Linked DNA regions of Homo sapiens: all the other regions are linked to region 5. The links come from fine-mapping of genetic effects on gene expression. A gene starts in region 5. Each other region holds a variant in brackets. All regions are shown on one strand. Distances are between the middles of the regions.

Region 1 (5,105 bases), 58 kb before region 5:
AAGCTCTCTCTGTGAAAGGGCCATGAATGCAGTGGGGACATGAGATGTGTCCCCTGAGGATCAAGCACACAGAATTTCTCAGCCTCAGGGGCTCCTGAGAGCTTGTTCCCCAGGTGGCCCTGAGGCCCGGGAGGGTCAAGCCCCAGGCTGGGTGCCATCCCGTGTGTCAGCGGCAGACTCGGGCTCCATGAGTTCCTCCACAGAAGCTGCGGGAGGCGAAATCAGCAGAGATGCCACCCAGCCGACATGAGAAAAACCCACCAGAGGACCCGACCCATGCCCCTGGCAGCAGGACCGCAAGGCCACCTGTTCGTTGAGCTACCTTCAGGGACGCCCTGAGCTGTCCATTCCCGTGGTGTGCAAGGCCCAGGATGGCATCAACCACCCTGGGTGTGTCAAAATCATCTGCCAAGGCCGCCTTCACGGCCCTCTTGGTGCTGGAGAGCCTGAGGGAAGAGGAGAGAACAGTCACAGCAGAGGGAGCTCCACTCTCCCCAGGCGGCCCCCACACCAGTCCTTCCCCAGGGAGAGACGCTGGGGGCTCTAATCTGGGGACTTTCTCTAGGTCATATTCCCAAAGACTTGAGTTCCTGAGTAGCAGAAAATTATGTAACATCAACTGCAAACTGTCATGTTACCCCAAGAAAAAGTCCCAGAGCAGAGGTCACCTGTGACACTTAAAATACAAGACACACGTGGGCATTTTCATGATGGTTTTAAAAATCAATAGATATTGAGGGGAGTGGCAAGGAAGACTCGGTGGGGGAGAGACGGCACGGCTGACCACTCACAAAGAGAGGCTGGGGAGGCCCAGCCCGGGGCTCCCGGATCTCAGCCTCCCGTGGCCACTGGCTGCCTACCCTGCTGAAGTGGCAGGGGTGGGTTATCACCAAGACCATCCGGAAGACTCTGCATGCCGGGATGAATGTGCAGCGCTGCCCAGGACACCCGTGGGTGGGGAGTGGAGGCGATGCTGTGGGCCCAGGCCTGTGTGTTTTATAGATTTTGGCTCCTCACAGTCAGGACTGGGAGGGATGAGCAGCTCCGCTCCTCGCACAGGGAACCCGAGCCCAAAGCCACTCTGAGCAGGGGGCTCAGAGCCCGAGGGCCCCAGGCACACTTCCTGCCAGCGCCGTCTCCCTGGGATGTCTCGGGAGCCCCTGACCCCACACCTCCTGTCCAGCACCCAGTGTCCTGTGGCCTCTGGGGAGCCCCTGACCCCACACCTCCTGTCCAGCTCCCAGTCCCCTGTGGCCTCTGGGGAGCCCCTGACCCCACACCTGCACCTCCTGCCCAGCACCCTGTCTCCTGGGGCCTCTCTGGGCAGTCCCTGACCCCAAACCTCCTGTCCAGCGCCCTGTCTCCTGGGGGCCCCTCTTCCCCTTCAAGAGCCCACCAGCAGCACCCAGCAGGCCACAGGAGGGGTGCCACGCCGGGTGCTAGGCGGGCCTCTTACCTCTCCCACAGCATCGCTTCCCTGACGGAGCCGCAGGCCAGCTGCCCCTTCATGTAGGCACGTGCGTCCTCCAGGAAAGAGCCCAGCCCCAGGAGCAGCTGCTGAGCTTGGAGCATGGCGCTGTCACTGTAGTCGATGGCTGAGGAGGAAGAGATGGTCACTGAGGCGGTGCCCACCATGCTGTGCCCCTGCCCTGGTCCAGCAGAATCAGTGTTTTCTGAGGGCACTGCCACCCAGGGACCACACGGAGAGCGGGACATGTGGCTCTCACGCCCTCCAGTGACCGCGAGTCCCTAGGCCCACTGGACACAGACCACAGGGTCTGTCCCAGCTCAGTGGCACCTGCCGTGGGAGAACAAGGTGGCGGTGGAGACATGCTCCCAGTGCTTCCAGCCAAGAGGTGCATTTCCACTGACTGGATGGAGGTGCGGATGAATGGCTGGCTCTGGAAAGAAGGAGCCCCGCCCTGGATGGATGGAGGTGCGGATGAATGGCTAGCTCTGGAAAGAGGGAGCCCCGCCCTGGGGTCAGAGGCACCTCTAGGGAAGGCCCTCCCGAGGGAAAGTGCCTGTGTGTGATGGGACAGCCCAAAGAGGGAGGGAGGAGCAGTCCCCAGACCTGGCTTTAGAGTCTGTGGGTGTTTCTTAGGCCACCTGGATGAGGGGCCAGTGTTTCTGTTTACATCTGTTCATTTCTTGTGGTTTCTAGTCTACTGCATTCTGATGGGTAAGACAACAGGAGTGAATCGCTTTGCAATGATCACATATCCTTGGATATCAGCAAAGCCAGCCACATATTTCTAGAACCTTCTCGTGCCTACTCTGTTTCCCAGGCTGTCTGAGTCCACAGTCCATGCTTTTGAGGAGTGCTGCTTTAAACAGCTCTTTGAAAACCACAAGAATAAAAAGAGCCTATCTGGACACATATGCTGAAAATTACATCTCAACATGCCTCCAAGTCCTGACTTCAAAACGAGAATTCCAAAATCAGACATGGCTTCAAGCTGGAAGCAACACAGTGAAAACCTCCCCCAGGGCTGTCTAATATCTTACTTAACATTTTTCCTTTTTTTCTAAATTCACTTTCAGTTTTTGCTTTGAATAGCTTGATAGAAAAGAGAAAAAGCCAGAAACCCACAAAGCGATCTGACAAAATTTAAAGATAATATTCGGGGACTGATAGAGTTGATGCATGGGAGGCTGTTAGAATAAGATTACCATTAATGACACAGCAAGATGAGGCATCCAGATGGGGAGGGGCAGACAGATGCCCAGGATGGAGACGCCTTCTGCCTCAAGGTCAAGGACAGCTGCATTTCTCCAAAGAGGATTCTGCTCTACAGATGGGAGACACTTCTCCAAAGTGTCAGCGCAGCACAGACTGCAAGGGATGCCACCACCGTCCCCCTCCATCTTCCCAAAGGTGAAGAAAGAATGTCTGGGAAGATCCCGAACTCCCACACCATTCGTGGATGGAAGCTCAGACAGCAAGCGAC[G/A]GCCCAGCTCCTCAAGGCCACCTCCGACCTCGGCGGGGTGGGGCAGTCGTGTCCACTGTGGGGATCCACGTCCTGACTAACCTTGTGTTCCTAGAAATCCCTCACTGGCAGATCGGTGCCTCCTGAATCCCACCCAAAATTCCCACTGGGAATGTGTTCCTGAAAGAGCTGCCCAGGCTTGAGAAAGCCTCTTTTCAGACCAAACTTCGTATTCAAAGCTCAAAAAGAACTGCACACAATTAGGACAGTCATACAAGATGCTGCCCCTAATCCTGCCACAATCTGCGAGAAGGGAGGCGGGGCTTCCGAGGGCAAAGTGCCCCTGGGAAGGGATCCGCAGGGAACAGCTTTGAAAGGACCACAGCCCCCAGCCACGAGGGGAGCAAGCACGAGCCGGGAAGAGAGCTCTGCGCTCGCACACGGGATTCATCTCCGCCGCCTCTGCCCGTTTCCAGCAACACGGAGCCAGGCGGAAACAGTTTCTCCAGCCCATTCGCCTCCCCGACTCTTCCTCTCACGGCACGGCTGGGCTGCTTTCATCACGCGTAAGTGCACACCACACACAGATGCTGCACGAGGCCAGGCGAGCACGAGGCTGGCCACACTTCTTTCTCAAGCTCGTGCGCCCGTGAGCGCAGGTCCCCTGGGCCGATGCACTGCAGTTCCACCCAGGGGAGAGGTTCAGACCACGTCTCAGAAAACCTGAGTTTGCAGTAGAAAGCCAACGACGTGGCGTCAGAGCCAGGATAAAGACATGGCCCAAGGTAGCCTTTCGGTGGTCAAAGGTGCAGGTGTCTGTGTGCCCCTCTCACGCTGACAGGAGCTGCAGGCCGGGTGAAATTCTGCAGGCACAGCACAGGGGAGGGAGATGGATAGGGGACCAGCCCAGGGGCTCACCCAAACCCACCAAAGCTTTGTGTGTGACATAAAGTGTGCTGGCCAGATAGATTCACCCCATGGGGGAATGAGAATAAACTATGTTTCGGCTGCATGTCCCCACTCCCATCGTCTTCATTAAAAAGGTGAAATCATCAATTTGGAGCAAGAGAGCTACGTAGGAGGGACAAGAAGGGGGAGAGGGAGGTGGCATGACAACAGCAGCGACCCAGGGCCTCGGCAGTGTCAATGGAGCAGAGGGGACACCAGAGGCCAGAAGGACAGCAACCCTCGCTCACCAGGAAGGAACTGTCACCATCTCCAGAGGACACTGGCCCTGCTCCTGCAGCACTAGCCATACACTGGGACCTTATTGCCAGTTAGGTGGTCAAGCCAGGCAGGGCAGTATCACTGTCCCCAGCCCTCACTTGCCACCAGGGATGCAGCTCTGGATAACGACTTTTTTTTTTTTTTTTTTTTTTTTGAGACAGGGTCTTGCTCTGTTACCCAGGCTGGAGTGCAGTGGTGCGATCTCAGCTCACTGCACCTCCGCCTCCTGGGTTGAAGTGATTCTCCTGCCTCAGCCTCCTGAGTAGCTGAGATTACAGGTGCATGCCACCAAGCCAATTTTTTTGTATTTTTTTCAGATGGAGTCTTGCTCAGCCACCCAGGCTAGAGAGCAGTGGCATGATCATGGCTCACTGCAGCCTCTGCCTCCCAGGTTCAAGCAATTCTCCTGCTTCACCCTCCTGAGTAGCTGGGATTACAGGCACACATCGCCATGCCTGGCTAATTTTTGTATTTTTAGGAGAGATGGGGTTTTACCACGTTGGCCAAACTGGTCTCGAACTCCTGACCTCAAGTGATCCACCTGCCTCAGCCTCCCAAAGTGTTGAGATTACAGGTGTGAGCCATCGTGCCAGGCCTTTTGTATTTTTTGTAGAGATAAGATCTCACTATGTTGCCCAGGCGGGTCTCAAACTCCTGGACTCAAAACATCTGCCAGCCTCGGCCTCCCAAAGTGCTGGGATCATACACGTGAGCCACCATGCCAGGCCAGTGCTAGACAACTCCTGGCCAAGAGCCTAGCCCGGGGCAGCAGGTAACTGTGCAGCATGGGAGGAACCGTCATCACCCATCCAGGAGACCTTGCTCTGCTACACACCGTTCGGGGAAGTGCTGCCCCTGGGCAGGACAGGCAGGGTCACGTTTGAGGGCTCCCATGTTCAGGGGCCGTGCCAGGCTGGCCCCTTCCAATCTCCCAGTTCACACAGCAGG
Region 2 (5,105 bases), 29 kb after region 5:
TGTTTTTCAAATATCTCTTTTATCCATCTGGAATTTATTTTGGTTTTTAGGGTGGGGAGTCACTGAAATTCTTTGACAAAATGGAAGAATGTGAGGGATGCCATGTGGTATAGGGAAAGAGTGCTGGCCCTGAAGCCAGAGGACCTGGTTTCAGTCTCTGGCACGTACCAGCTGTGTGATCTGGGTGGAATTTCTTCATTTCCTTGACCCTTCGTTCCTCATTTATAAAATGAGTAATGATGCCTACCCCTCAGAGTGTTAATTCATACGACGTTCAAATGAGATAATGTATTAGTCCATTTTCACACTGCTATAAAGAACTGCCTGAGACTGGGTAATTCATGAAGAAAAGACATTTAGTTGACTCACAGTTCGGCATGGCCGGGGAGGCCTCAGGAAACTTACAATCATGGCGGAAGGTGAAGGGGAAGCAAGGCACGTCTTAATGGTGGAAGAAGAGAGAGAGAGCAAAGGGTAAGTGCCGCACTTTTAAACCATCAGAGCTTGTCAGAACGAACTCACTGTAACAAGAACAGCATGGGGAAAATCCACCCCCATGACTCACCCAGGTCCCTCCCTTGACATGTGGGGATTACAATTCGAGATGAGATTTGGGTGGGGACACAGAGCCAAACCATATCAGATAATATATGTAAAAGTGGCCATAACTTAATGATGTGTATTAACCCCTCTAAGTATTTCCTCAAATAGATGGTCATTGTCTCAAGCCAGTATTGAATACTCCATTACCTTCTCATTCATGAAATGTCAGCTCTATGATATATTAAATTTTCATAGACACGTGGGTGTCTCAGTTAGTTTCCACTGATTTATTCATTTATGTCAGTGAAAAATCTTCACTGTTTTCATTTCACTAGCTTTATAGTACTTTTTAATATTTAATAAGGCAAGCGCTCTGTTTGCTTCCTGTATAGTTCATTTTTGCATTGCTATAAAGAACTGCACGAGACTGGGTAATTTGTGAAAAGAGGTTTAATTGGCCTATGGTTCTGCAGGCTGTACAGGAAGCATGGCTGGGGAGGCCTCGGGAAACTTACAATCATGGTGAAAGGCAAAGGGGAAGCAGGTATGTCCTTCATGGCCGGAGAAGGAGAAAGAGAGTGAAGGGGGAGGTGCTACACACTTTTAAACAACCAGATCTTGTGAGAACTCACTATCACAAGAACAGCAAGGGGGGAAATCCACCCCCATGACATAGTCACTTCCCACCAGGCCCCTCCTCCAACAAGGGAGATTACAATTTGACCTGCGATTTGGGCAGGGACACAGATCCTAACCATATCACTTCCGTTAATGATTATAGATTAACTTGGAGAACACCTATACGTTTGGAACATGAATCTTCTCATGCAGAATATGAAGTATTTCCATTTATTCACGCTATCTATGATAGCCTTCAGTTATATTTTACAGTTTTCTTCACATTTCTTTCTGGTGTGTTGTGTTTTAGTTGCTACCACACATGGATCTTTTTTCCATGACTTTGCTCCATTGGTTCCTATTTACATGTAATAACAAGTTAATGTTTGTAGGTTGATCTCAGATCTGGCCACCTTGCTGATATTTCTCATTTGTTCTAGAAGTTTGTCAGTTGACTCTCGTAGACTTTCTAGGTAGAGGACTGTCAGTACAACATTGCCAGTGCCATGCCCGTGACTGATAGTGGGCATCTCTGCTTCCTTTCCTTTCGTCCTTTAATTCCCTCTTACTGAATGAGCTGGGACTTCAATGAAAGGTTAAGTACAGTTGGCAATAGCAGGCATCAGAGTCTTGTTCTGATTCAAATGGAAATGCTTTGAATATGTCACCATTATTCTGATGTGCCAGGTATTTCCAAAAAATATTGTTTTGTCAGGTACAGGCAAGTTTCTTTTATGATTTTTGGTATTTTTAGAGTATTGCCAGAAGTTAATGCTGAATTCTGTCAAATACTTTTTTGGGGTTGAGGCTGAGGATAGCTATGTGAGCTACGTGTGGATCTTCTCCATTTATTTATTTATTTTAGGGACACGGTCTCATTGTGTCACCCAGGCTGGAGTGCAGTGCTACGATCAAAGCTCACGGCAGCCTTGAACTCCTGGACTTAAGCAATCCTCCTGCCTCAGCCTCCTGAGCAGTTGGGATTATAGATGTGAGACACCATACTGGCCTTTTTTTTTTCAATTCAGTAAATTTTGATCCCATTCCAGCATATGTAGCTTAAAAAACAATAATAATAATAAATGAATTTCGAAAAATCTTGGCATTATTGGGATGGACTCTTCCTGGCTGTGATGGATTATTCTTTTAGTCACCACTGTATTTGATTTGATAATTTTTTGAGACAGAGTCTTGCTCTGTCACCCAGACTGGAGTGTAGTGACACAATCTTGACTCACTGCAACCTCCACCTGCCGGGTTCAAGTGATTCTCCTGCCTCAGCCTCCCGAGTAACTGGGATTATAGTCACCCGCCACCACACCCGGCTAATTTTTGTATTTTTAGTAGAGACAAGGTTTCGCCATGTTGGCCAGGCTGGTCTCGAGCTCCTGACCTCAAGTGATCCGGCTCCCTGGGCCTCCCAAAGTGCTGGTATGACAGGCCTGATTTGATAATATTCTATTAGTAAGTTTGTGTCTCTGAGATGGGGCTTTTAAAAAAGCTATTCTTGT[AGTGTGT/A]GTGTGTGTGTGTGTGTGTGTGTGTGTGTGTGTGTGTGTGTGTGGAGTATATTAACCTTATGGAATGAATTTAGGAGGTTTACCTTTTTTTTTTTTTTTTAATGCCCTGGAAGCATTTATTTATCCTTCGAGGGCAAATTCCTCTTCAAGGAATTATTTGTCCCTTGAATATTTGTTAGAAATAATAGGCAAACAATAATCTTTGCAGTAAGTCTTTGACTACCTTTTCAATTTCTTCTCTTCAGGGTCTCTATCTCTTTTTTTTGTTGTTGTTGTTGAGACAGAGTCTTGCTCTGTCGCCCAGGCTGGCGTGCAGTGGCACGATCTCGGCTCACTGCAACCTCCACCACCTGGGTTCAAACGATTCTCCTGCCTCAGCCTCCCCTGTAGGTGGGATTACAGGGGTATGCCACTGCGCCTGGCTAATGTTTGTATTTTTAGTAGAGACACAGTTTCACCATGTTGACCAGGCTGGTCTTGAACTCCTGGCCTCAGATGATCTGCCCGCCTCAGCCTCCCAAAGTGCTGGGATTACAGGCATGAGCCACTGTGCCTGGCCTCTATCTCTTCTTGACTCAGTGTTATCACTTTCTATTTTCTTTATCCCATATTATATTTTCCATGAAAATGTTCTATTTCATCTAGGTCTTAAAATGCATTGGCATACTGTTGAACATAGCACTTACTTTTTCATCACCTTGATGACTCTGGTTGTATCACCTTTCTCATTTCTAATATTATCGATTGTATCTTCTCTCTTATTTCTTAAATTGGCTTGTCACATACTAGTCCATTTAATTGATCTTTACAATAAACCAGTATTTGGTTTTATTGATTAAATCTATTCTTTTTTTTATTTTTTTTATTTGAGATGGAATCTTGCTCTGTTGCCCAGGCTGGAGTGTGATGGTGATATCTTGGCTCACTGCAGCCTCTTCCTTCCAGGCTTAAGCAATTCTCCTGCCTCAGCCTCCCAAGCAGCTGAGATTACAGGCACACACCACCACCCCTGGCTAATTTTTGTGTTTTTAGTAGAGATGGGGTTTCACCATGTTGGCCAGGCTGGTCTCGAACTCCTGACCTGAGGTAATCCACCTGCCTTGGCCTCCACAGTGCTGGGATTACAGGCATGAGCCACTATGCCCGGCCTGTTATTATTTTTCTTTTATTGATTTATTATATTATCAGCCTGATTTTTACATTTCTTTCAGTTTTTTTTCTCATAGCTTCTTGAGTTAAAAGCCTCTTGTATTTTCAGTCTTTCTGGTTTTCCAATACATGAATTTAACACCGTAAAATTTCATCCAAATACTCCTTTGTTTGCATCCTGCATATTTATAATGTCATTCATTTCTAATAGACTGTATTTTTAATTTTATATTTTCTGTGAGTAGTTACTTAGAAGCACATTTTAAATTTTTCATAGGTATAATACTCTCCTTCAGCTATCCTATTAATTTTATCACTGATTTTATGATGCTGTGGCCAGGCATTCTCTGGTCCTCATGATTTCTGCTTTTTTTTTTTTTTTTTTTTTGAGATGGAGTCTCACTCTGTCACCAGGCTGGAGTGCAGTGGCACAATCTCAGCTCACTGCAACCTCTGCCTCCCGGGTTCAAGTGATTCTTCTACCTCAGCCTCCAGTGTAGCTGGGACTACAGGCGCGTGCCACCACGCCCAGCTAATTTTTGTATTTTTAGTAGAGATGGGGTTTCACCATGTTGGCCAGGATGGTCTCGAGCTCTTGACCATGATCTGCCCACCTCAGCGTCCCACAGTGCTGGGATTACAGGCATAAGTCACCACACCTGGCCTGATTTCTGCTTTTTAGAAATCTTTTTGTCCCTCTGATATTCTTGCATGTGGTCAATCTCCTATTATTTAGACATTGTGTAGCCACAATTATTTAATCTGTCAATTTCTAAGAAAAGTGTATTCATGTAATTTATATGGTTGTGGATTTGTTAGTTTCTTTTATTTCTACAAGTTTTCACTTTTGTGTGTGTCCTATGTATATACATGTACATATATATTACTCTATGTGTATATATGTGCTATATGCATATACATATATGTATATGTACATATATACCCACATTTTATACATGTATGTACGTATATGCGTCTGTGTATATTTATGGTATATGGTGTGTATATATGTGTATATATGTATATGCTATATGTATATGGTGGATATACTTTGGCTCTGTGTCCCCACCCAAATCTCTTCTCCAATTGTAATCCCCATGTGTTTGGGAAGGGGCCTGGTGGGAGGTGATTGAATCATGGGGGCAGACTTCCCCCTTACTCTTCTCATGATAGTGAGTTCTCACAAGATCAGGTTGTTTGAAAATGTGGGGTACTTCCCCCATTGCTCACTCTCTCTCCTGCTCCACCATGTAATACATGCTTGGTTCCCCTTCTCCT
Region 3 (5,105 bases), 20 kb before region 5:
GGACCACGCCGACCAATTTGCCATACTTGTCTCCTCTAGACTTCAGATCGAAGTAGACATTGCCTGTTTATAAAGACAATTATGAATTCATCACTTCTCAGTCTGAATATCAGCATATTGACAACCTTAACATCTAACAAGTAATTAGAATTTAAATACAGAACATAGCATTTGGCCCCATATACATATATAGTATTTATATTTTTATAGACAGGGTCTTGCTGTTGCTCAGGCTGGAGTGCAGTGGTACAATCACAGCTCACGATAGCCTTGAACTCCTTGGCTCAGGCAGTCTTCCCACCTCAACCTTCCCAGTAGGTGGGGCTATAGGAGTGACACCATGCCTGGCTTAATATATTTGTTAACCAGAATTAAAAACAATACTATAAGATAAATGCATGATTTGGACATATCATGAGTACACAGACGTGAAAGTGAAAACACAAATGTAAGTTCTCTGTAAACTACTGAGACAATTATTTAATCAGAAAAAAGAAAAGTGTTATCACTGACCTTCATTTAGATCTTGTGCCTTGTGTTACACAACAGCTAACAAAGACACTCTTTCTTTACTTTATGTTACACACCAGCTAGCAAAGACACTCTTTCTTTGCCCAGTCATCTTCTAAAACTACCTTTTTACTCAGATTGAAAACATCATCTGGCTGGGTGCAGTGGCTCACGCCTCCAATCCCAGCACTTTGGGAGTCCGAGGCAGGAGGATTGTTTGAGCTGAAGAGTTCGAGACCAGCCTGGGCAACATAGTGAGACCCCATCTCTACCAAAAAAAACACACAAAAAAATCATCTGCATATTGAAGTGTCTGTGAGGCTGAGTGCCAAGGTCCGCTTTGCAGTCTGAGGTCAGAACCTTCTCCAGAGCCTCCTGCAAGCCTGGGCTGCCCTTGCCCCTTCCACCACAAAGCCTAAGAAAGCAGAGCTGGGGAGGAGGCACTCAGAGTGGGAGCTTTGTCAAGAAGAAAGCACTACCAACCTATGCTCCAAGGCTGCCCGGCTGCAGCCGCTGTGTGTTCCAGGCCATGTGTCTCCCTAGGAAGGAGGCAATGCTCATCCGGGCTGTGACCATGGCCATTCTCAGTACCACAGATCCGCAGCCACCATCCAGCACCCTCCAACCACACAGCAGCATGTAGCTGTCCTCAGGCCCCAGGCGTGGGTGCAACTTTTAGCCTTTACAAAGTTTGAGTCTTCACATTCTTTTTTACTAATGCAGTTACTGATTTGCATCAGTACTGTCCTTACTGCGGACACTGGTGTTGGTAAGATCAAGGAAACTTTGCAACTGGCAAACACAAGCTGCACCCAGGACCTGCCTCATGTCCTCAGCCTGGATGTCCCCCTCCTGTCCTCTGGTTCATCCCCAGCACCGAGTGCCAGCTTAGTGGTCAACCCCGAATGACCAGGGAGGACGCTGAAGGGACAGGGCAGGGTTTTCTGTTGAAATGTCACCCGGCTTTGTTTGCCCAAGCCACACTGGCCTTTCCTCCCACCAGTGACCATTGTGCTCAGAAAACCCTGCCCTGTCCCTGCAGCGTCCTCTCTGGTCATTCAGGGTTGACCATTAAGCTGGCACTCGGTGCTGGGGATGAACCAGAGGACAGGAGGGGGACATCCAGGCCCTGGGAGCTGCTTTCTATGAAGTCAGAATATAAACAGTGCTTTAAAAGCGCTTCACTGGAGAGAAACCACTCCCTTAAATGGTGGAAACATTCCCCCTTCACTTTGCTTTATGTTATCAATTTGCTGAAGAAATTGTTTTTCACCAAGAGTTCAAAGATCAAATTACAACCAAGCCCTTGTGGAATTGTAACAAAGTCCAAATTACTGGGGTTTGATTGAATGTAAGTGTATTTTGAATTAATTATATTTATACTATCATTAAATTGTTTATAATAAAACACAGTAACAAAACAACAAACAGCATTCAATCCTCAAGCCTGTGAAGACGAGAATCCCTAAAGACTCGTGAACATTTATCACTTTATTCCTAAAATGGAAGCACAGGCCCACATATCTTATTTCAAGTTACACGACAGCAAAAAATTAATTCCTGTGTTTTCTGGTGCAAACTCTAATTCAACCACCTAAGTCCTTTAAAAAAAGTTTTTCCTGGGAGGCTGAGGCAGGAGAATTGCTTGAACCCGGGAGGCGGAGGTTGCTGTGAGCCAAGATTGTGCCACTGCACTCCAGCCTAGGCGACAGAGCAAGACTCTGTCTCAAAAAAAAAAAAAGTTTTTCTTTGAAACAAAATCTAAATATACCACATTAGAACAAGTAAAAAGCTACTTCCATACACAGAGCCTACTGAGCAGATCCTCAGGGCCTCACGTGCTCATCTTACGCTCCAAGTAGGACCCAGGAAGGACAGGAACGTCCAGGGCAGTGCTTCATGCTTTCTGACTCATTGCAACAAACATTCAATACCTACGTATCTTCAGCCGTCGGCTGGATACTT[T/G]AAGGCGTCATTCAGTAAAGCAAAAGGTTTTTATGGTCTGAGAATTTATGATCTAGATGGGGACAAAATATGAATACATTAAACAGCAAACTATGGCAGTGCAGAACTGGCTGCCAAATGGTACAGCAGAGATATCAAGGCTGAGAAAGTAAGTTCACTTTCAACTGTGCTGGGTGAAGGAGAACTTCATGGAGAGATGAGGCTGTGGTCAGGGTTTGCAGCCAGGATGGGTGGGATTTAGTTCGGATTTATGGCGATGCTTCATCACCAAAGCAGCAAAACAGCAAGACGCCAGCCTTGCCTGGGGTCCACCAGACAAAGATTAGCATCCGCAAACCAATGAAACCACCTGCAGTAAGCAACATGCAAATCTAAACACAGACTGCTCCACAGGAAAACTGACCTGTCAGAGTCTTGAATCTACATGTGCTTACCCAGAAAAAATGAAAAAAAAAAAAAAAGAGAAAAAAAGAAAAAAAGAAAGAGGAGGGGAAAAAGTGAGGAGACTAAACCAACAAATGCACACGCAGCACATGCCCTGGGGACAAGTGAGTATATTTAATACAGAGAGGACACGCGAAGCTAGCCAGAAATTCTTCATTGTCTGAGGTCTGACCATGACATCTGGACTCCTTTTATGCAGAGATGCATGTTGAAGTGTCATGGCTGATGCGACAGAACATCTGCAACTCACGCTTTTTTTTTTTTTTTTTGAGACAAGGTCTCGCTCTGTCTCCCAGGCTGGTGTGCAGTGGGACAATCATGGTTCACTGCAGCCTCGAATTTCCTGGGCTCAATCTATCCTCTCACCTCGGCCTCCTGAGTAGCTGAGACTACAGGAGCACGCCACCATGCCTAGCTAATTTTTATATTTTATTTTTGTAGAGAAGGGGTCTCTCCATGTTGCCCAGGCTGGTCCTGAACTCCTGGACTCAAGTGATCCACCTGCCTCTGCCTCCCAAAGTGCTGGGATTATAGGTATCAGCCACCACGCCCAGCCCTGCAACTCACTTTTTTATTTTTATTTTTTGAGACAGTCTGGCAATGTCACCCAGGCTGGAGTACAATGGTGTGATCTCGGCTCACTGCAAACTATGCCTCCTGGGTGCAAGCAATTCTCATGCCTCAGCCTCCAGAATAGCTGGGACCACAGGCGCGCGATACCAGGCCTGGCTGATTTTTTGTCATCTTAGTAGAAAGAAGGTTTTAACATGTTACCCAGGCTGGTCTCAAATTCTTGGCCTCAAGTGATCCACCCGCTTCCACCTCCCAAAGTACTGGGATTACAGGCATCAGCCACCATGCCTGGCCCTGCAACTTTTTGTTTTTTGTGCAGGGGAGGGTGGGTGGACGGAGTCTTGCTCTGTCACCAGGCTGGAGTGCAATGGTGTGATCTCGGCTCACTGCAACCTCTGACTCCCGCAACTCACTCGTAATGGCCTGTGAAAAAACGATAGCCAAACAGACGGGGGTGACCTGGGCTGACTTTTAATAAGAAGAGAGCAGGTCTCTGGAGGTACTGTGTTTGTCCCCAACTTTTTGTTAGGAAAATACCTAAACAAAGATGAAATAACACCACAATGAACACCTGTACACCTACCACCTAGATTCCACGACTGTTACCAAGACTAGCTGTCCAGACGTTCCCCTCTCCCTGGAAAAGATATTTAGAACTAATTCAACCATTTCGCAAAGAGACACAATATTGTAGAAAACCCCACAACAGCTTTGCTGTTGGAATCCTAGCAAGACAGAAGTAAATTTTAGTATGTTCCTACAGCTGATAAATACATCCAGTTTCTCCAAATCCCAGTAATGTTTTAGTTTTAAGAACATAAACCGGCTGGGCACAGTGGCTCACGCCTGTAATCCCAGCACTTTGGGAGGCTGAGGCAGGTGGATCACAAGGTCAGGAGTTTGAGACCAGCTTGGCCAACATGGTGAAACCTTATCTCTACTAAAAATACCAAAACAAAAAAAATGTAGCCGGGCATGGTGGCACGCACCTTGTAGTCCCAGCTATTCAGGAGGCTGAGACGGGAGAATCGCTTGAACCAGGGAGGCAGAGGTTGCAGTGAGCTGAGATAGCACCACTGCACTCCAGCCTGGGTGACAGAGTAAAACTCTGTCTCAAAAAAAAAAAAAGAAAAAAAAAAAAAGAACATAAACCCTACCTTTTGCCGTTGAATAAGCGTTCCCACGAGCAATGATTCCTTCAATGAAAGAAATTATCTGAGGAATATTTTCGGTTACCCTCAGGTACACCGTGGGTGGGAGAACCTGCAAGGAAGTGGAGACGTGACCGTGTTTCCCTCGTGAGAAGCACAGGTCAGCCAGCACCAGCTGTCATTGCTCACGCCTGTCACCCTCATGGCAGGAACAACCAGCCCCACACTTTACCTTCAGGGCTGCCATGTCCTGCTTGAAGTCTTCCTCATAAAGACTGGCGAGGGAAGCGGGGGAAATATTCATCTGCAGAAGGATTAGATGTGCACGTTAATGAGTCTGGGGCATTCGCAACAGAACCACCCAGCCACAAGAAAGCCCACGTGCACAACACGACAGCAAACATACCCCGGCCACCTCCGGTGCCTCGGCCTCAGTTTGCCCCCACCCACTCACCAAAGCGG
Region 4 (5,105 bases), 48 kb before region 5:
AGGGAAAGTGAGAAGCACAGCTATAGGGAGATGTGTGCACACACACACCTGCTCCGAGAAAACTAACCGCTGCTTCAGGAGAGAAGCCGGGCAACAGTGAACGTGGTCGGGCAGGAGGCCTGCTTTCCAGACTTAGTACCTTTGAATTTTTCTACCGTGTGGTTCTCTGTCTTGTCTGCAGTTTTCAAACTTTCTGAAATTAAACCCATCATGTCTATAATCAAATTAAAACCTCACTTAAATTGTTAGGGAAGAGGCGGCATGCATACGACACTGCCTCATGAATGAGACAGAGGAGAAAGGTTTATGTGTATTGGCCTATCGTGTGTAACGGAACACAGGAAGATGAATCCAAAACAGAGAACACAACTGTGGCTGCTGGGGAAGGAATGGGTGCAGGCGGGCTCCAGGCCAGCCTTCTCCATGCTCTCTTTAGTGTTAATGCTGAACCCTGCAAATGTTTCACAGATATGACAAATAAAAGTAAATTGGGACTGGATGCAGTGGCTCACGCCTGTAATCCCAGCACTTTGGGAGGCCGAGGCAGGTGGACCTGAGGTTAGGAGTTCAAGACCAGCCTGGCCAACATGGTGAAACCCCATCTCCACTAAAAATACAAAAATTAGCTGGGTGTGGTGGTGTAGGCCTGTAATCCCAGCTACCTGGGAGGCTGAGGCATGAGAATCACTTGAACCTGGGAGGCAGAGGTTGCAGTGAGTTGAGATCACACTAATGCACTACAGCCTGGGTGACAGAGCAAGACTCTCAAAAAAGACAAAACAAAAAGTAAATTGAAAAGGGGAAGAGAGAGACCACCACACTGGAAACAAACAGAACAAATGAACCTCTTGTGTTAATGAAAGGAGATCATTACATGCCGCGAGTGTATGTTCAGACCACAGAGCTTTAGTGGGGTGCAGTCCACGAGAAAAAGAAATTTCAGTCCAGAATAGGTGAATCACAGAAACAGAAAGTAGATGAGCGGCTGTCGGGGCTGGGAGGAGGTGGGAGTGAGAAGTGATGGCCCATGGATGTGGCGTTTCTTTTTGGGGTGATAAAAACGTTCTTAGAGGCCGGGCGTGGTGGCTCACGCCTGTAAGCCCAGCACTTTGGGAGGCCGAGGCAGGTGGATCACAAGGTCAGGAGATCAAGACCATCCTGGCTAACATGGTGAAACCCCGTCTCTACTAAAAATACAAAAAATTAGCCAGGCGTGGTGGTGGGCGCCTGTAGTCCCAGCTACTCAGGAGGCTGAGGCAGGAGAATGGCGTGAACCCGGAAGGCGGAGCTTGCAGTGAGCCAAGATTGTGCCACTGCACTCCAGCCTGGGCGACAGAGTGAGACTCTGTCTCAAAAAGAAAAAAAAAAAAACGTTCTTAGATAGTGGTCGTTTCACAACTGCGAATATCTTACAAACCACTAAGCAGTACCATTTAAATAGTATACTTATATAGTATGTGCATTACATTTCAATAAAGCTATTAGTTTAAAAAGAAATAAGAGAAGCCTTAAGTTTTACTCAATAGTTTTACTGTTAATGGTAATATTGGTATTAAGTTTTTAAATTTATTTTGTGTGTATTTTAAGATAAAACAAAAAGTTGATATGCTCTTATGTTTAGTAAGAGAGGAAAATAAAGAGCTAAAACTAAAAAGCCCTGTGATATTAAATTTTATTTGGATATATCAAAATTAACCCAAATAAGGAATCTATTTTGTATGTGCAGGTTTATCTCCCTCTCCCCTAGCTCTGACCCCTGAAAAAGCGTAGACGCAGTGTCACTCTGGTAGCAATCAACATCGCAGTGCCCAAATCTTGCCTTCAAAATCCCATTTCCCCTCAAAGGCAGGGTGGCTGCTTGGAGAAACGGCAGGTCTGGGTAGGAAAGCAAAAGGCAGGCAGGTGCAGGAGGGCACAACAGAGGCCGAGGGGTCTGTCCCTGGGGGACCGGAGCCAGTCAGAAGAGCCCTCCCTGGCTAAATCCGGGATGATTTCAACACCCAAAAGATAATGACTGAATTGACAATACACTAAATAAATATAAATCACTGACTCTGTCTACTAAAAAAAGAAAGACAAAAACACTTTTCTTTAAGAAGAATGCCAACTAATAAATGTAAAAGAGGGAACAATTAGACAACCATGACTTTGCAATAACCAATGAAATACCTGATCAAAGTGAAGCCTCTAAAACCATAGGGTGGAAG[C/G]TTATTAGGAAACAAATTACCATGCAGCATGCCACCTCTCAGATGCTTAATATTCATAAGAAGAAAATAAACTCTGCAGTAGAGGGATCTGGTAGTCATTCCTTAACAAATGGTAAAACTCACCATCATGAATCGTAGGACAACCTGACCTTGCAGCCCCCAGGGAATGCACTGTGAGTTCACAGCATCAACTACAAGGTATTCCTGCCAAAAAGCTTCTACCTGGATCAAACTGACCCTTTAACCCTCACTTCCCGTGAAACGAACTACAGGAGATAGAAGAACAAGCTAAATGACAACACAATGAAACAGACAAATCCAAAATGTGGGATGTTCAACAAGACAAGTGGCTCAATCTCTTCAAAAAGTCAACACCACAGGAAAAATAAAAGTAGAAAGACTGCTGTAGATTAGATTAGAAACCTAGAAAGAACAATGAAATATAATTCAGCCTAAAGGAAGGAAATTTTGACATGGAATAAAGGAGCACAGGTGAATCTTGAGAACACCATGCTAAGTGAAATAAGCCAGTCACAAAAGGACAATTACTATGTGAGTCCACTTACACGAGATCTAGAGCAGCCAAAATCATAGAAACAGAAAGTAGAAGGGTTGTTGCCAAGGCCTGGGGAAAGGGGAAATGGGAAGTTGTTCAGTGAGTCCACAGTTTTGGTTTTACAAGATGAAAAAATTCTAGAGATCTGTTGCATAACAATGTGAACATATTAACACTACTGAACTGTATGGTTAAGATGATAACTTTTATGTTACGTGGTTTTTTTAACCACATTAAAAAAAACCCTAAAAAGACACAACATACAAATGCAACATATGAACCTTGATCAACTCCTCGTTTAAAAATAAAAGTATAAAACACATTTTGGGGATAACTGGAGAAAACAGGCCAGGCGCAGTGACTCATGCCTGTGATCCCAGCACTTTGGGAGGCTGAGGCAGGTGGATCACCTGAGGTCAGGAGTTCCAGACCAGCCTGGCCAACATGGTGAAACCCTGTCTCTACTAAACAAAACAAAACAAAAATTAGCCAGGCATGGTGGTGTGCACCTATAATCCCAGCTACTCGGTAGGCTGAGGCAGGAGAATCATTTGAACCTGGGAGGTGGAGGTTGCAGTGAGCTGAGATCACGCCACTGTACTCCAGCCTGGGTGATAGTGAGACTAACAAAAAAACAAACAAACAAAAAAAGAAAAACAGACTACAGACTAGATAATATTAAGAAATTACTGCTAACTTTTTAGGTGTTTGGATTATGTAGGAAAGCATCCTTATTTTTAGGAGTTGGTTACAGAATAGAGAAGTGTGATGATGTCTTCAATGTATTTCCTAATGGTCAATAACAAGCATTATATACAGGTGTCCATGTGCATACATGCTCACACAAATGTGCACATGCACACACACGCTCACCACTCCCATAAACACAGATAAAGCCCCTGAAGGGTACCACAGCCTGCCAGCCCTGAATATGCCTCCCTGGCATACAGATTATTTTGAGCTAAAGACCACTGAGAACAAGCAGATGCAGGAAATGCTCTAAAAACAGGGTGCAAGTTTTCCTTGTAAACAAAGCTCCCAGTTGTAAAAGATGTATCCTGCTGTAGCAGGGTGAGGACTCCCTAACAACTCTCAATAGAGAGGCTCAATCTGCAAAACAAATTTTACTCAACAATCCTTGTTTATCACTTTTCCTAGTCACCCTCCCAAAACTTGCCTGCCCCTCCTCAAGCCCAGATCTCCTTTTTTTTTTTTGTTTGGCCTAGCATGGTTCACAGGCAGACCTCAGACATACTGAAGGGTTGGTTCCAGACCACCACAATAAAGCGAATATCACAATAAAGCAAGGCACACATATTTTCTGGTTTCCCAGTGCATATAAAAGTTATGTTTACACTATTATACTGCAGTCTATTAAGTATATAATAGCATTATGTCTGAAAGAACAATGTACGTACCTTAATGAAAAAATATTTTATTGCTAACAAAAATGATAATCATATGAGCCTTCAGTGAGTCATCTTTTTGCTGGTGGAAGGTTTTGATTCAATATTATGGCTGCTGACTGATCAAGGTAGTGGTTGATGAAGGCTGAGTTACTGTGGCAATTTCTTAAAACAAGACAATAATGAAGTCTGTGCCATCAATTGACTCTTCCTTTCATGAAAGATTTCTCTGTAGCATCCAATGTTTGATAGCATTTTACCCACGGCAGAATGTCTTTCAAAATTGGAGCCAATCCTCTCAAACCCTGCCATTGCTTTATCAACTAAATTTATGCAATAGTCTAAATCCTTTGTTGTCATTTCAACAATGTCCACAGCATCTTCACCAGGAGTAGATTCCATCTCAAGAAACCACTTTCTTTGCTCATCCATAAGAAGCAACTCCTCGTTTGTTCAACTTTTATCATGAGGTTGCAGCAGTTCAGTCACATCTCCAGGATCCATTTCCAATTCCAATAGTTCTCTTGCTATTCCCACCATATATGCAGTGACTTCCTCCAATGATGTCCTGAACCCCTCAAAGTCAACCATGAGAGTTGGACTTAACTTCTTTCAAACTCCTGTTAATGTTAATATTTTGACCTATTCCCATCAATCATACATGTTCTTACTGGCATCTAGAATGGTGAATCCTTTCCAGAAGGTTTCCAATTTACTTTGCCCAGCTCCATCAGAGGAATCACTATCTATGGCAGCTATAGCCTTATGAAATATTTTTCTTAAATAATAAGACTTAAAAGTTGAAATTATTCCTTGATCAATGGGCTGCAGAATGTTCTGTTAGCAGCATAAAAACAATATTACTCTCATTGTATGTCTCCATCAAAGCTCCTGGATGACCAGGTGCACTGTCAATATTTGGAAAGGAATCCTTTT
Region 5 (5,105 bases):
AGGAGAGTCCCAAGCTCCCACCAGCCCCTGGGAAGGCCCTGTGTGGACACAGCTTATAACATGCATTCAGCTGCGCACTTAAGATGTGTATTCTTTTCTGTAGTCATAAAGGTAAATATTATACAAATTTAAACTGCAAGACTTGACTCTCCTAGTTGGAAATGAGAAGAGATTCTCTCCCCAACAACTTTTAGGATTTCTTCCTCAGTCCTCTTCAAATGCATGTCAATCTTTTAAATGGCTAAATAAACCTCTTGGCAGTTTTACAACTCAAGAAAATTTCAAAACCTGGGACCCACCTCTGAAATGTAATCAAGGAAAATAACGCCCCGTTTCCCAGTGTCCTGGGAGGAGATGGGCCTACCTTGTCATCTGACTCCACACTGTAACTCACCTGAAGCAATGGGTTATGCTATGGTCTGAATGTTTGTCTTCCCTCCAAATTCATGGTTGAAACCCTAACTCCCAAGGTGACGGTTTTAGGAGGTGGAGCCTCTGGGAGTGACAAAGTCATGGAGGCAGAGAGCTCATGACTGGGGTTAATGCCCTCATAGAAGAGACCTCAGAGAATTCCCTCTACCTTCTACCATGTGAGGACACAGCAGGCAGACCCTCAACAGACACCAAATTTGCTGGTGCCTTCATCTTGGACTTCCTAGCCCCAGAAAGAAAGAAATTTCTGTTGTTTATAAGTCATCCATTTTAGGATATTTTGTTACAGCAGACTCATAGACTGAGACAGGCTGTATCCCCAAAGCTCCATAGAAGGATGAGATTTCTTTCTGTCTTTGCAGTTATTTTAGCTCATCCCCTTCTGGTTTAAGGCTTATTCAGTAACAGAACTGTTTTCTTTCTCTTCTACCTTTGTGGAAAGGTTTTCCAGGGTGGGGGTTTTGTTTTTAATATTTCCCCAACATATTTTATAATTCAAGAAAGATGTCGAAATATGCTTTTGATAATTAAAAGTATGTTAGCCCAAAGTAAAGGGGAAAAATGTATATTTAAAGTATACAGAGTATGCCGGGCATGGTGGTTCATGCCTGTAATCCCAACACTTTGGGAGGCCAAGGCAGGTGGATCATTTGAGGTCAGGAGTTCGAGACCAGCCTGGCTGACATGGTGAAACTCCGTCTCTACTAAAAATACAAAAATTAGCCGGGCGTGGTGGTACATGCCTGTAATCCCAGCTACTCCGGAGGCTGAGGCAGGAGAATTGCTGCCAGGAGGCGGCAACTGGACCTGGGAGGCAGAGGTTGCAGTGAGCCGAGATTGCACCACTGCACTCCAGCCTGGGCGACAGAGCGACTCCGTCTCAAGAAAAAAAAAAAGTATACAGAGTAAATGTAACTTTTTACTTTTAGTCTAGGACTGAACAATACTAAGTTTTAAAAAATCTATAATATGTCATTTTTGTACATTATATTTTGGAAATGTACAAAATATTAGGAAAAGTGGTAATTTTGGCAAATGTAGGAGGCAGTACATCTTACAGTTAAAGAGGTCAAGAGAGCAACCACTTCGCAGTCAGAGAAACCAAGCCTCACCCCAGTTCCAATACCTCTTCAATGTGTCATCTTAGGAAAGTTACTCAATCACTATTGAGCCCCGTGACATCTCACATGTGAGGTACAGTGTTAAGCAGCATTTTATGGGCATTATTTACTAAAATTGTTATAAGATCCAAGTTATCATTCCCATCTCAAAGATGAAGAAACCAGGACTCAAAGCAATAAAGTGACCTGCTCAGTGCTGTGAAGCTAAGAAGTGGTGGGGCCCAGGAATGACTGATCAGCAGGACCCCGGGACCCCGCAAAGGCCTCTTGATGTCACTAAACCCAGCAAAAAACATCTAGTTCCAAAACGGGTCATTTTTCAGTGCTCCATTGTCTCCCTGAGTTTCCTCACCTGTAAAACGGGTGTAAGTGCTCAGAATCCCTATAAGAACCAAATGAGGTTGTAACATTTCCCACAATGCCTGGAATGTAGGAATTATTCTGCATCCCTAAGTTGCCACTTAAGAGATAAAAGAAATCAGCAAAAGGCTTTCAAAAATAAATGGTCCTTTGAAGTATGAAAATTCAAATCCAGGAAACTCACCAAGCATGGCCAAGGTGCGCATGATCATATACAGTTGGTCCACAGCTATACCTGGAAACAAAGTTAAAATCCATCGTGTGGAACATATTTGCAAGAAAGGACATTCGATTCTGAGTTATAATGATCATATAATTTTTAAAGTAATCACTTCTGGGGGATGAATAGCCGGGGTTTTCATACTTGCTCAATTCACACCCAAACCTGCAAAAGCACCGCGCACCCCCAGCTTCTAGAACGGCGCCCTCCATGCAGCTTCCTAAACGCCCTCCCCGAGCCCAGATCCCGTTCAGCCGTGGGAAGTCTCCGCCACGATCGGCCCCCGCCCGTGCCCCAGTCCCGCGCGGCCCACCAGGAGGCGGCTTCGGCGTGCGCCACGATTAGGGGTTCCTTCCTCCCGGTGAGGCTGTTGTACACCTGCACACCCGTCTCCCGGCCCGTGGGCTGCAGCCAGGCCCGCCCGCGCCCCCCGCTCGCCGCCCGGCCCGCAGGCCAGTGCCACCCAGCCCGCCCAAGGCCCAGCGCGGCCTGGAGCAGCGGGGGGCCCAGGCCTGGGCCGCGCGTAGTCCTCAACATGTCAGCGGCCAGCGCCTACGACTGGGCGGAGACGGGAGCCACGCCGGGTACGCTGCCGGTCGCTCAAGAGCAGCACGGCCCCGCCCCGCCCCGCCCACGCCCTTGGGGCCACGCCCACTCCCGGAAGCAGTCCTCAGGTAGCGCCTCCCTTTGGCCTGGCTCGAGTCGCCCGCGGCAAGGGTGGAGAACCAGGGCCCGAAGAGGTTGGGGCGGGGAAGGCCCGGGGTGGAGGGAGGAGGGCGGTGCCGCGCCGGGAGGCCGTGGGAAGAGGCGGTACCGTGCCGATCTCCTCTCCTTATTAGCCCAGGTCCTGCGAGGCGTCCGTGTGCGCGCGGTACCAGCCTGGAGCTGTGTCCGCCGCGCGGGAGGAGCGTTTACAGTGCAAGCTTCTGTTGCCGGGCCCTGGCCTGTTAGCGAAGCACGTGTGCATCCCAGCACAGCCCACGTCAGCACGCTAATACACAGTGTCCACCCCAGAACACACGTCAGCACCCCAATACAGTGTGCACCCCAATACAGTGTGCACCCCAAACACACATCTGCGCCCCAATACAGTGTGCACTGCAGCACACCGTTAGCATCCCAACACAGTGCACCCCGATACACAATGTGCAACCCAACACACAGTCTGCACCCCAAGAAGTGTGCACCCCAATACACAGTATGCACCCCAGCACACACATCAGCATCCCAATACAGTGTGCACCCCAATACAGTGTGCACCCCAGCACACACATCTGCACCCCAATAGTGTGCACTGCAGCACACCATCAGCATCCCAACACAGTGCACCCCGATACACAGTGTGCAACCCAGCATACAGTCTGCACCCCAATACACAGTATGCACCCTAGCACACACCACATCAGCATCCCAATACAGTGTGCACTCCAATACAGTGTGCACCCCAGCACACACCATGTCTGCACCCCAGTACAGTGTACACCCCAATACAGTGTGCACCCCTAATACACTGTGCACTCTAACACACACCATGTCTGCACCCCAGTACAGTGTGCACCCCAACACAGCACATGTGCATCCCAGCAAACACTGTCTGCATTCCAATGCAATGTGCACCTCAATAGAGTGTGCGCCCCCACACATCTACACCCCAATACAGTGTGCACCCCAATACACAGTGTGCAACCCAACACACACCATGTCTGCACTCCAATACACAGCATGCCTCCCCCACCATGATCCCGTATCTTGAGAACAAAAACATTCTGAAAGTTACTCACAATAGCTTGACAAACGTGCCTCTATTGGGCCAGGCGCAGTGGCTCACACCTGTAATCCCAGCACTTTGGGAGGCTGAGGCGGATGGATCACCTGAGGTCAGGAGTTCGAGACCAGCCTGACCAATATGGTGAAACCCCGTCTCTACTAAAAATACACAAATTAGCCGGGCGTGGTGGCGTGCATCTGTAGTCCCAGCTACTGGGGAGGCTGAGACAAGAGAATCGCTTGAACCCAGGAGGCAGAGCTCACAGTGAGCTGAGGTCACACCACTGCACTGCAGCCTGGGCAACAGAGGGAGACTCCGCCTGAAAAAAAAAAAAAGTGCCTCTATTGGTGTCTTGCAATACGATGTCTCAAAAAAAAGAAAAAGTCCCCTTTGCTTTTCCAGTTCTCAAAACAGGAGACGTTCCTCTGGTTTTTTGTTGTTGTTTTTAGTTTGCTTTGGTGTTTTATTAAAAAGCAAAGGTTTAAGTAGAGACAAACAAGTGTGTACCTAGAGTAGTTTCTCAATATCCTGGAGTCCAACTCTGCAATTCTGTTTCAAGCTAACTGTAGTCTAATGTAATCTATTGTCTAATTTAATAAGGTTAAAATGTTAGAATTAGGAGACCCTATAGCCTACATCAATGCTAACCACTCATGTTACCTAACTACTCTAAATTCTCCTGAATATTATCACTTCTTGCCTGCCTTATGTTATTTTGTAACTTTCCAGTGCTGTGTGTATATTTATCTCCCTGAGTATCTTAAATTGTACATTATTTTGAACTTCTCACTGTGCCCTGCACTAAATTCAGAAAAGGACTTGGGTTTTGTTTGTTTTGTTTTGCTGTGGCTGGAAAAAAAAAATTTAGAAGAAATAAAAGGGCTTGTTGAATGTTGATGAATTAATCCCTTACGAAAGGGATTAATTGTGCAGGTGGGAAGAAATCTGGGTAGTAAAATACCTGATAAAGCTGATTCAGATATTAGATGTGCCAGTAAATAAAGCAAATTAACAAAAAGCTCAGTTGCAATCTGTGAGAACACACGAATTCAAGGAAATAACTGGAGCAGAGATTCTGAAAGCAGCTTAGTAACACTGAAGATCAAATCTGCACATGAATCTGGACATGCGGTATATTTGAATTGTTCATAGAACATCACAACTTTTAAATTAACAATAGTATCTTCTGTCTTCAGAAAATTCA

Alleles and levels. Alleles are on the strand shown, and positions count from the first base shown. SD is a standard deviation of normalised expression in the study named. Not every link is listed here.
As copies of AGTGTGT replace A in region 2, the expression in skeletal muscle of the gene that starts at base 2,693 in region 5 goes up (moderate effect, 0.42 SD a copy in FUSION).

What was found. PIP is the estimated chance that this variant, and not a neighbour inherited with it, causes the effect. A credible set is the group of variants that fine-mapping cannot tell apart.
Region 1: its variant is the best candidate, but not a certain one, in a credible set for the expression of CARS2 in whole blood (TOPMed, PIP 0.60).
Region 2: its variant is the best candidate, but not a certain one, in a credible set for the expression of CARS2 in skeletal muscle (FUSION, PIP 0.82).
Region 3: its variant is the best candidate, but not a certain one, in a credible set for the expression of CARS2 in whole blood (INTERVAL, PIP 0.84).
Region 4: its variant is the best candidate, but not a certain one, in a credible set for the expression of CARS2 in blood mononuclear cells (TOPMed, PIP 0.84).

What each region holds. Positions count from the first base shown.
Region 1 is chr13:110,645,645-110,650,749 of GRCh38, forward strand. It overlaps CARS2 (cysteinyl-tRNA synthetase 2, mitochondrial), which reads right to left. Exons shown (of 15, transcript NM_024537.4): 11 at 1,457-1,595; 12 at 323-446. Among named protein-coding and RNA genes, the nearest start is that of NAXD-AS1, 32 kb to the left of the region's middle. RefSeq lists an enhancer at 3,444-3,943. The variant G/A (reference allele first, on the strand shown) is at 2,952.
Region 2 is chr13:110,732,669-110,737,773 of GRCh38, forward strand. No RefSeq gene overlaps it. Among named protein-coding and RNA genes, the nearest start is that of ING1, 22 kb to the left of the region's middle. The variant AGTGTGT/A (reference allele first, on the strand shown) is at 2,673.
Region 3 is chr13:110,683,072-110,688,176 of GRCh38, forward strand. It overlaps CARS2 (cysteinyl-tRNA synthetase 2, mitochondrial), which reads right to left. Exons shown (of 15, transcript NM_024537.4): 4 at 4,876-4,947; 5 at 4,650-4,755; 6 at 1-63. Among named protein-coding and RNA genes, the nearest start is that of CARS2, 20 kb to the right of the region's middle. The variant T/G (reference allele first, on the strand shown) is at 2,476.
Region 4 is chr13:110,655,532-110,660,636 of GRCh38, forward strand. The region is part of intron 9 of CARS2 (cysteinyl-tRNA synthetase 2, mitochondrial); the gene reads right to left. Among named protein-coding and RNA genes, the nearest start is that of NAXD-AS1, 42 kb to the left of the region's middle. RefSeq lists an enhancer at 2,977-3,086. The variant C/G (reference allele first, on the strand shown) is at 2,208.
Region 5 is chr13:110,703,424-110,708,528 of GRCh38, forward strand. It overlaps CARS2 (cysteinyl-tRNA synthetase 2, mitochondrial), which reads right to left and starts at 2,693. Exons shown (of 15, transcript NM_024537.4): 1 at 2,447-2,693; 2 at 2,098-2,148. The coding sequence starts at 2,670. RefSeq lists a silencer at 2,501-3,060 and enhancers at 3,111-3,490, 3,501-3,620.